Linked DNA regions of Homo sapiens. The protein of the gene in region 3 interacts with the protein of the main gene of each other region in a pairwise test. Each region holds a gene or a part of one and is shown on either strand. Other genes may lie near its edges. The genes, in order: RELB, FOLH1 and MTAP.

The links.
Region 1: the proteins of MTAP (region 3) and RELB interact in a two-hybrid assay, tested with the Homo sapiens proteins (one large-scale study listed by BioGRID and IntAct).
Region 2: the proteins of MTAP (region 3) and FOLH1 interact in a two-hybrid assay, tested with the Homo sapiens proteins (one large-scale study listed by BioGRID and IntAct).

What each region holds. Positions count from the first base shown.
Region 1 is NC_000019.10:45,032,377-45,035,649, forward strand, and holds part of RELB (transcription factor RelB), read left to right. Parts: intron 1-157; coding exon 158-373; intron 374-1,867; coding exon 1,868-1,936; intron 1,937-2,074; coding exon 2,075-2,152; intron 2,153-3,273.
Region 2 is NC_000011.10:49,146,979-49,149,642, reverse strand, and holds part of FOLH1 (glutamate carboxypeptidase 2), read left to right. Parts: intron 1-911; coding exon 912-1,004; intron 1,005-2,664. UniProt on the Homo sapiens protein: Has both folate hydrolase and N-acetylated-alpha-linked-acidic dipeptidase (NAALADase) activity. Has a preference for tri-alpha-glutamate peptides. In the intestine, required for the uptake of folate.
Region 3 is NC_000009.12:21,809,088-21,812,746, forward strand, and holds part of MTAP (S-methyl-5'-thioadenosine phosphorylase), read left to right. Parts: intron 1-2,401; exon of another isoform or gene 2,402-3,275; intron 3,276-3,659. UniProt on the Homo sapiens protein: Catalyzes the reversible phosphorylation of S-methyl-5'-thioadenosine (MTA) to adenine and 5-methylthioribose-1-phosphate. Involved in the breakdown of MTA, a major by-product of polyamine biosynthesis.

The DNA.
Region 1 (3,273 bases), on a different chromosome or scaffold from region 3:
CCATTGCACTCCAGCCTGGGCAACAGAGCAAGACTCTCAAAAAAAAAAAATTTTAAAAAGGGGGAATATTAGTCTTGATTTTAGGGGAGGCTGGGCAAGTTGGGAGCACAGTGGTCCAGATGTCCTGGCTTAGCTGATGTCCCCCGTTTCCTGCCAGAGGACATATCAGTGGTGTTCAGCAGGGCCTCCTGGGAAGGTCGGGCTGACTTCTCCCAGGCCGACGTGCACCGCCAGATTGCCATTGTGTTCAAGACGCCGCCCTACGAGGACCTGGAGATTGTCGAGCCCGTGACAGTCAACGTCTTCCTGCAGCGGCTCACCGATGGGGTCTGCAGCGAGCCATTGCCTTTCACGTACCTGCCTCGCGACCATGGTAACTACAGCAACCCAGGGTGACCCACCACCTCGGAGACTAGGTCTTTGGCCTTGGGGAGACCCCAGTGGGGATGGGAAAGAGGCAGAACTAGAATGCAGGCTCAGAGCTACAAAGACAGTGTTCAGATCCTGGCTCTGCTGCTTACTGGTTGTGTGACCTTGGCCTCTCTGAGCCTCATTCTTCTGTGCAAAATGGAAATAATAGTAGCTGTCCTGTGACATTTGGAGAGTATTTAATCTTTCCTCCCCTCAGCATCCTGCACATGCCCGGGCCTGTGCTCGGTATTGCTAGAGACACAGCAGTGACCAGCACGGCCCCTAGCTGTGTCCTCATGAGGCTTATAGTCCTGAGGATAGGGGACAGCCTGTCCCTACAGAGTGATGACCAGAGTGGGCAGGACTGGAATGAAGTGCTCAAGGGCTCACATTGCCCAGAGGGGGTACCTGACCCAGCTGTAGGTGTCAGGGAATGCTTCTTGGAGGAGGGGACAGCTGAGCTGAGGACAGGAGGATGACTAAGCAGGGAAGTTTTCTAGGGAAATAGTGAGAGTGGAGGAAGAGTGCTTTAAACAGCTGGAACAGCAGGTGCAAAGGTCCTGAGGCCGGATTGTGCCTGGGGTGCTCCAGGAACAACAAAGAGGCCAGTGTGTAGGCCGGGCGCAGTGGCTCATGCCTGTAATCACAGCACTGTGGGAGGCTGAGGCAGGCGGATCACCTGAGGTTAGGAGTTCGAGACCAGCCTGAACAACATGGCGAAACCCCGTCTCTACTAAAAATACAAAAATTAGCCGGGCGTGGTGGTGGGCGCCTATAGTCCCAGCTACTCGGGAGGCTGAGGCAGGAGAATTGCTTGAACCCGGGAGGCAGAGGTTGCAGTGAGCCAAGATTGTGCCATTGCACTCCAGCCTGGGCAACAGAGCAAGACTCACTACAGGCACCCGCCACCATGCCCGGCTAATTTTAGTATTTTTAGTAGAGACCGGGTTTCGCCGTGTTGGTCAGGCTGGTCTCGGACTCCTGACCTCAGGTGATCCGCCCACTTCAGCCTCCCAAAGTGCTGGGATTGCAGGAGTGAGCCACCACGCCCAGCCAAGACTCCATCTTTAAAAAAAAAAAAAATAGGCCTGGCACAGCAGCTCACACCTGTAATCCCAACACTTCGGGAGGCCAAGGCAGGCAGATCACTTGAGGTCAGGAGTTCAAGACCAGACTGGCCAACATATAGTGAAATCCCATCTCTACTAAAAAAATACAAAAATTAGCTGGGCGTGGTGGCGCACACCTGTAATCCCTCCTACTTGGGAAGCTGAGGCAGGAGAATCACTTGAACCTGGCAGGCAGAGGTTGCAGTGAGCCAAGACCGTGCCACTGCACTCCAGCCTGGTCAACAGAGCAAGACTGTCTCTAAAAATAAATAAATAAATAAATAAATAAAGGAATTAATTATTATTGATGAATTACTTCTTGTGTGTCCCTGGTATCTCCTTAACAGACAGCTACGGCGTGGACAAGAAGCGGAAACGGGGGATGCCCGACGTCCTTGGGGAGCTGAACAGCTCTGGTGTGTGCCCTCTGCCCCTTTCCACCCCCATCCCCAGGTTCTGGGGAGGGGACAGCTGACCCCACTGCCCTGTCCCACCCCAGGCTGGGGAGGAAGGGCTGTCGGGGAACAGGGGTCCTCATCTCTGCCTTCCCTCAGACCCCCATGGCATCGAGAGCAAACGGCGGAAGAAAAAGCCGGCCATCCTGGACCACTTCCTGCCCAACCACGGCTCAGGTGGGTCCCAGCTACACATAAGCCCCTGTCCCCTGGGTGGGCAGAGGGTAAGTGGCAGCCCTGCTTTTCTGGCCTCTTCACGCCCTCCAAGAGCAGCCACAAGGCGAGTCACTCAGCACTTAGCCAGCAACATAGAGTAGAAAGAATGAGGGCTTTGGAGACAGAATGGAAGTTCTGATCTCTTCTGGGCCATTTCCTTGCTATGTGAACTTCATTAAGTTGTTCTACCTCTCAGAGCCTCAGGGACTCCTTTGAAAAGGCCCAGTACATACTTAGCTCAGTGGTGTTTTAAAATTTGATCTATTTCTTCTTTCTTTTTTTTTTTTTTTGGAGATGGAGTCTCGCTCTGTCGCCCAGACTGCAGTGCAGTGGCATGATCTCAGCTCACTGCAACTTCTGCCTCCTGAGTTCAAGCGATTCTCCTGCTTCAGGCTCCCAAGTAGCTGGGACTAAAGGCATACACCACCACACCTGGCTAATTTTTGTATTTTTTAGTAGAGACGGTGTTTTACCACATTGGCCAGGCTGGTCCTGAACTCCTGACCTCAGGTGATCTGCTTGCCTCAGCCTCCCAAAGTGCTGGGATTACAGGCATGAGCCACTGCATCCCACCTATGATCACATTTAACTGCATTTACAGCAAAACCCAAAATAACAGGGGCTTCAACAGGATAGAACGTTATTTCTTGTCTCACATACATAGTCTGTAGGGACTGAAAGTGGCTCATGCCTGTAATCTCAGCACTTTGGGAGGCTGAGGCAGGTGGACTGCTTCAGTCCAGGAGTTTGAGACCAGCCTGGCCAACGTGGTAAAACCCTGTTTCTACTAAAAATACAAAAATTAGCCGAGTGTGGTGGTGCACACCTGTAGTCCCAGCTACTTGGAGGCTGAGGCAGACAAATCACTTGAACCCAGGAGGTGAAGGTTGCAGTGAGCCAAGATTGCACCACTGCACTTTAGCCTGAGCAACAGAATGAGACCCTTCTCAAAACAACAACAACAACAACAACAAAACAGGCCTGGCACTGTGGCTTACGCCTGTAATCCCAGCACTTTGGGAGGCCAAGGCAGGTAGATCACGAGGTGAAGAGAGAGAGACCATCCTGGCCAACATGGTGAA
Region 2 (2,664 bases), on a different chromosome or scaffold from region 3:
CTGAGAAACTCAGATGTAGCTAATGAAAAACTAATGAAAAATATAAAGTAAGAGAATTATAGAAACTTAAAAAAAAACTGTTACATTCCATTTGGACTACTAGCCATGTGTTCCACAAACATTTTCTATTTTATATAATTGCCTATCTCATTGTCTTAACAACATGAAGACTAAGATGTGAAAGGGGGATTAAGCATGTGGTAAGAGTTATACTGGGGGCAGCTAACCCAAGGGAGATCAGATGTGGCTTCAGATTCCACATACACAGCTACATTTCCTCACTGAGGCAGAGCAAGTTAATCCAGAAAGTCATATCAGGCTCCAAGAACGCTGTACTTAAACCATTCTGAAAATCACTTGAAACGATATAATTTTAAGTAACTTTTAGACTTAAATCTGGATCATTATACCGAGAGATCAATTTAATTTGTTTGGTAGTTTGTTCATTTTCACCCTGTTAATTCCACAGAGGACTCGTCATTTACATTAGGTATACCTCCCAATGCTATCCTTCCCCCCTCACCCCACCCCACGACAGGCCCTGGTGTGTGATGTTCCCCACCCTGTGTCCAAGTGTTCTCATTGTTCAATTCCCACCTATGAGTGAGATAACGGGTGCAGCACACCAACATGGCACATGTATACATGTGTAACAAACCTGCACGTTGTGCACATGTACCCTCGAACTTAAAAGTATAATAATAAAAAAAAATTCCACAAAGGAGGAGGGCCGACTTTTCACATACATGTGTCCTCCTTGCAGGACTTGAGTATGCACAAATTTTGGTGTAGAGGGTGGTCCTGAAACCAATCCCCGGAGATAACTAAATTCAGTTTTGTTCTGAAATTTTTATTTTCTGAGTAGAAACATATTTTCATGAAGTTATAATTATATTCATTTTCTTTCTCAGCCCAATAGTATTAAGAATGATGAATGATCAACTCATGTTTCTGGAAAGAGCATTTATTGATCCATTAGGGTTACCAGACAGGCCTTTTTATAGGTAAGAAAAGAAAATATGACTCCTTTCTGTAATATCACTTTTTCTTCTAATTATTTTTATTTTTTTCACTGTGGAAAAAATATTGTAGTTGATTTCTTGCAAGCAAATAGAAAATTTCAAAATATATGTAGTAAGTGATAGTTGTATTGTTTCTTCATATAATGTAATATGATTTTTGCATATCTTTATTTTGAGTATCTTTGTTCTGATTATAAAAGAATATAAATTTATTTTAGAAAATATAGAAGATCCAGAAAGCCATGACAAAAAATAAAAATCTCCCCAATTTTATCAGAAAAATATAAAATCATTGTTATATTCTGGTGTGTATAATTTTAGCTCCTTTTCTATTTTAAATATATTTTTACTTATGTATACACAGAACCCAAACATCTCTCTATATATAATGTATATAATAAATATATATTTATTTATTCTTTTCCCTAATGTTGATATTTAGATATTTTATTTCCTCCTAAATCCTGACAGTTGGATTTTTTTCTGCCAAACATTGACTGTCCCCAGGTTGATCTTCTAAATATTGCAGAATGAGATAGATCATTGGACAGCCAGAAATGGCCCTAACTTTCTTTCTAGGGATTATCAAAGGGTCGGGCTTGGGAGTAAGAGCATCTTCCAAGCAGGTTGACTGGATCAGATCACCAGTAGCAGCATATTTTTATCCATCCCCCACCCCCCCTTTTTTTCCTAAGAGACAGGGTCCCACTCTGTCTCCCAGGCTAGAGTTCAGTTGTGCAATTTTAGCTCACTGCAGCCTCAGACTTTTGGGCTCAACCAATCTTCCTGCAGCAGCCTCCAAAGAAGCTAGGACTACAGTCACATGCCACCATGCCCAGCTAATATTTGTACGTTCATTTGTAGCGACAGGGTGTCCCTATGTTGCGCAGGCTCGTCTAGAACTCCTGGCCTCAAGCAATCCTCCCACCTTGGCCTCCCTAATATATGGGATTACAGGCATGAGCTACTGCTTCTGGCCTTATTTACATCTTTACTATGGAGTTTGTCCTTCTCTTCTGTGGGCTATTACATGAACTGTCATAGCCCATTCTATAAAACATTTTCTGCCTTGGTCACATGGAACATTACAAAATTGTTTTTGATGATTCTTCAAACTCTATATTAAGTATTCTAACATGGTAGTGTGACTTTTTAAAAAAAGACAAAAAAAAAACCACAATAGAGGGTTGGCTGATCACAAGCAAGACTGTAATGATTACAATTGTGCTATAATATAGGGGGTAGCATGATATATTAAAAAATCAGCAGTTACTTGTCGTGTGCCTTGAGACAAATCATTTAGTTACTTGATCTCTCAGACCTCAGTTTCCTTCTCTGTGAAATACTAATATCAACTGTGTAGAGTTTATTTCTAAACATCAGAAAAATTGCAAGTAAACATTAAATACCAAGAATGATTGCTGTGGTTACTATCATCATTGTTAGTTTTGTAGCACTGAACCACTTTAATTTATTTGTTTGAAATAAAAATATAATTAATTACTATAGATTTCATATAATAGTCTTCAGAGATGATTGAACTTGGAAGTTCAGTTGACAAGTGGCTTGTTCAAATTGTTATAGGAATATGCAATCCAGGAATTGCAGAGTGCTCTTGTGTTTCTCTTGTATATCATTTGGG
Region 3 (3,659 bases):
TGGCCCCACATCATGTCCCCTTTTCTCTCCCTCTGCTTCTATCATTATATCACTTTCTTCCTCATTTGACCTTCTTGCCTCCTTGTGATTTCATTTAGGTCCCACCCAGGTAATCTAGGATAATCTCCCCATCTCAAGATCCTGGATTTAATCATATTTGAGGTAACATTCCCAGGTTCTGGGAATTAGGATGTAGCTAGGATCTCTTGGGACAGGGGCATTGTTCAGCTTGCCACACTCAGCCCACGTTTTAAAAATTTATGGTCTAGGGGCCGGGCGCGGTGGCTCATGCCTGTAATCCCAGCACTTTGGGAGGCTGAGGCGGGCGGATCACAAGATCCGAAGATTGAGACCATCCTGGCTAACATGGTGAAACCCCGTCTCTACTAAAAATACAAAAAATTAGCCGGGCACGGTGGCAGCCTCCTGTCATCCCAGCTACTTGGGAGACTAAGGCAGGAGAATGGTGTGAAACTGGGAGGCGGAGCTTGCAGTGAGCCGAGATCGCACCACTGCACTCCAGCCTGGGCGACAGAGTGAGACTCCGTCTCAAAAAAAAAAAAAAGAAAGAAATTTATGGTCTAGGCCCTAGAGCAGGTTGCTTAGTTCTGAGGGCACTTTAGAACCACCTGCGGAGCTTTAAAAACAAACTACGCCTTGCCCAACTAATCAGAATCCCTGAGGCCTGGGCTTTGGTATTGAAAGCTAGAGAAGGGGAATGTCCTAGTATCCAGCAGCTGGTTCAGGAGGGTGGGTGGCTCCCACTGTTGCTCCACAGGCAAAGGAGAGCTCTAACAAAGTATGCATTAGGGAGAGTCCTCCTCTAAAAATATCTGGCCATTTCAGCAGGTGAAGTGTGTCTTTAAGAGGGTGTCTGCCCTTTAGACTGATATCTGTACTTCTCAAGGGGCATTTGCTCAAATAAAAACCATGGATGTTTTGAGCGCTTGCATCATCCAAGCTTCTCTGACTAAAATATAGAGTCACTGTATTAGTTCGCTAGGCCTGCTATAACAAAGCACTACAGAATGGGTAGCTTATGCAACAGAAGCATTATCTCCTCACAGCGCTGGAGGTTAGAAGTCCAAGATCAAGGTGAGATCAAGGTGGATTTCTTGTAAGGTCAGTCTGCTTGGCTTGTACATGGCAATGTTCTCCATTTGTCTTCACAGGGTCTTCCCTCTGTATGTGGTTATATCCCAATCTCTTGTAAGGACAACAGTTTTCTTAGTCTGTTTTCTGTTGCTATAACAGAATACCTGAGACAGGGTAATTTATAAAGAGAAGAGGTTTATTTAAAAGAAATGAAAGGGAGACGAGGGAGATAGGAAAAGGAAACAAAAAAGAGACAAACTTTGCTTCATAACAACCCACTCTCACTGGAACTAATCCAACCCAATGAGAGCAAGAACACCCTCCCCTGGGACTGCATGAATCCCTTAATTGGGGTGGATTATTACCATGGCTCATGACTCAAACTCCTCTTAAAGGTACTACCTCCCAGCATCACTATATTTGGGGACCAAGCCTCAACATGAGTTTTGAAGATGACCACATTCAAACCATAACATGAGGTATACTGCATTAGGGCCCATCCCAGTGACCTCATTTGATCTGAATTACCTCTTTAAAAACGGCAAATACAGTCACATTCTGAGGTACTGAGAGTTGGAACTTCAACCTATGAACTTAGGGGAGATACAATTCCATCCATAACCATTACCTACAAGGGTGGCCTACAGAGGGGGTGTCTTGTCAGAGATGGAGACCCCAGCTATCCCTGTGGACCCTATTGCAGGTTTTTAACAGTCCTCACAGCCTGAGACAGTTGGTTGCTCCCTCTCATACAGCTAGGCTTCCAGGATTTTGCAAGGCCCTGACAGGCCTCAAAGCCATGTCAGCCTAATAATGAGGGCCTCCGTCTGCTGTGCTTGCCAAAATTGTTATGGCAACCAGAGCTAAAGGACTGCAGTGCTCAGATCGGGCTGTGCCAGCTCCAGCTCTGGCTCGCTTACCTTATCGTGAGCTTGAGGCACTCAGAGGCAGCCCATCTCCCTGGCATGAGCTAGTCTCAACCGCTTGGGGTGATGGTATTTTGAAAATGCCATTATAGAGTGCTGGGTTCCTTACGGCAGTGTGCCCAGGCCTCAAAGTGATGGTGAATGGTTTCTGGGACAAAGAAGGGTTGGTAAAATCTCCTGTAGCCAGGTACTAGAAGAAATAGACAGAGTAGGGGTTACTATGCACCCTTTCCACATTGCTAGAAGTAACTGTTCTGACCAGGTGAACTGGTATTTGGATAAATGCTTTCACAGTCTCAGAGAAGTCAGACCCTTGGATTGATTTGCTCTTGAACAAAAAAATTTTTTTTTTCACTGTGAAAATGCTTTCTTTGGGGTGTCTTTAGAACATGTGATGTCAAGACACAACAGCAAGCGCACATACACTAAGACATGGCTGTCATAGAACAGATTGTGCGTGAATAAAGGGTTCACACCACTTCCACCCTTTACACAGTAACAGAAGGCTCTAGGCCACCTACCTCCTCCTTGGCTCACTCAAACTCTTCCTCCTCAGCCGTGGCCTCCTGCTACTGCTGGTACTCAGACACCAGGTCGTTCATGTTGCTTTCAGCCTCGGTGAATTCCATCTCATCCATGCCCTCGCCCGTGTACCAGTACAGGAAAGCTTTGCACCGAAGTATACCTGTGAACTGCTCTGAGATGCCCTTGATCAGATCCTAGATAGCAGTGTTGTTGCCAGTGAAGGTGGCCGGACATCTTTAGCCCTGAGGGTGGGAAGTCACACACAGCTGTTTTTATATCTTGGGGGATCCAACCAACAAAGTAGCTGCTGTTCATATTTTGGGCATTAAGCATGTGCATGTCCACCTCCTTCATGGACATGTGGCCCCTGAACATGGCAGCTACCATTACGTAGCAACCATGGCAGAGGTTGCAGGCAGCCATCATATTCTTGGCATCAAAGAACTGCCAAGTGGGCTCACGCACCATGAGGGCCCAGTACTGCTGGTTGTCCCAGCTGGTCAGCAGGGGGAAGCCATACATGAAGTGCAGGTGGGGGAACAGGACCATGTTTGCGGCCAGCTTCTGCAAGTCAGCATTGAGTTGGCCAGGGAAATGCAGACAGATGGTGACCCCACTCATGGCTGCAGACACCAGGTGGTTCAAGTCACTGTAGGTAGGTGTGGGCAGCTTTAGGGTTCTGAGGCAGATGTCATAGAGAGCTTTATTTATTATCATTGCAGAAGGTCTAGTTTTGAGAAGTTTGGTTTGATGGTCAGTCCGTGGAAAAGTGTGGCATGAGCCACTAGCTTTTAAAATCTGTCAAGGACCTTGATTGACTCCCTATTTCAGAACTCTATCTTGTGTAATAAAGAAGTCCTGGCTGGGCAGAAATTCCATCTCAGGTCTTGAACACATTTCCTACACAGTCTAGAATTAACTGGACTGAGGACTGACGCTTCCTGCCCAGGAGGCCTGGCAAGGTCTTGTCATTGTTTCCTGAGGGTGGATGAGGTCATTAAGAAAGAGTTTTCCTCCCCTCTGAGATGATTCACTCAGATACCTGGAGTCACTGTTTCTGTGCTTGTTCTGTGACCTTCGTCATGAACTTGACCTCTCTGAGCATGTTGTCTC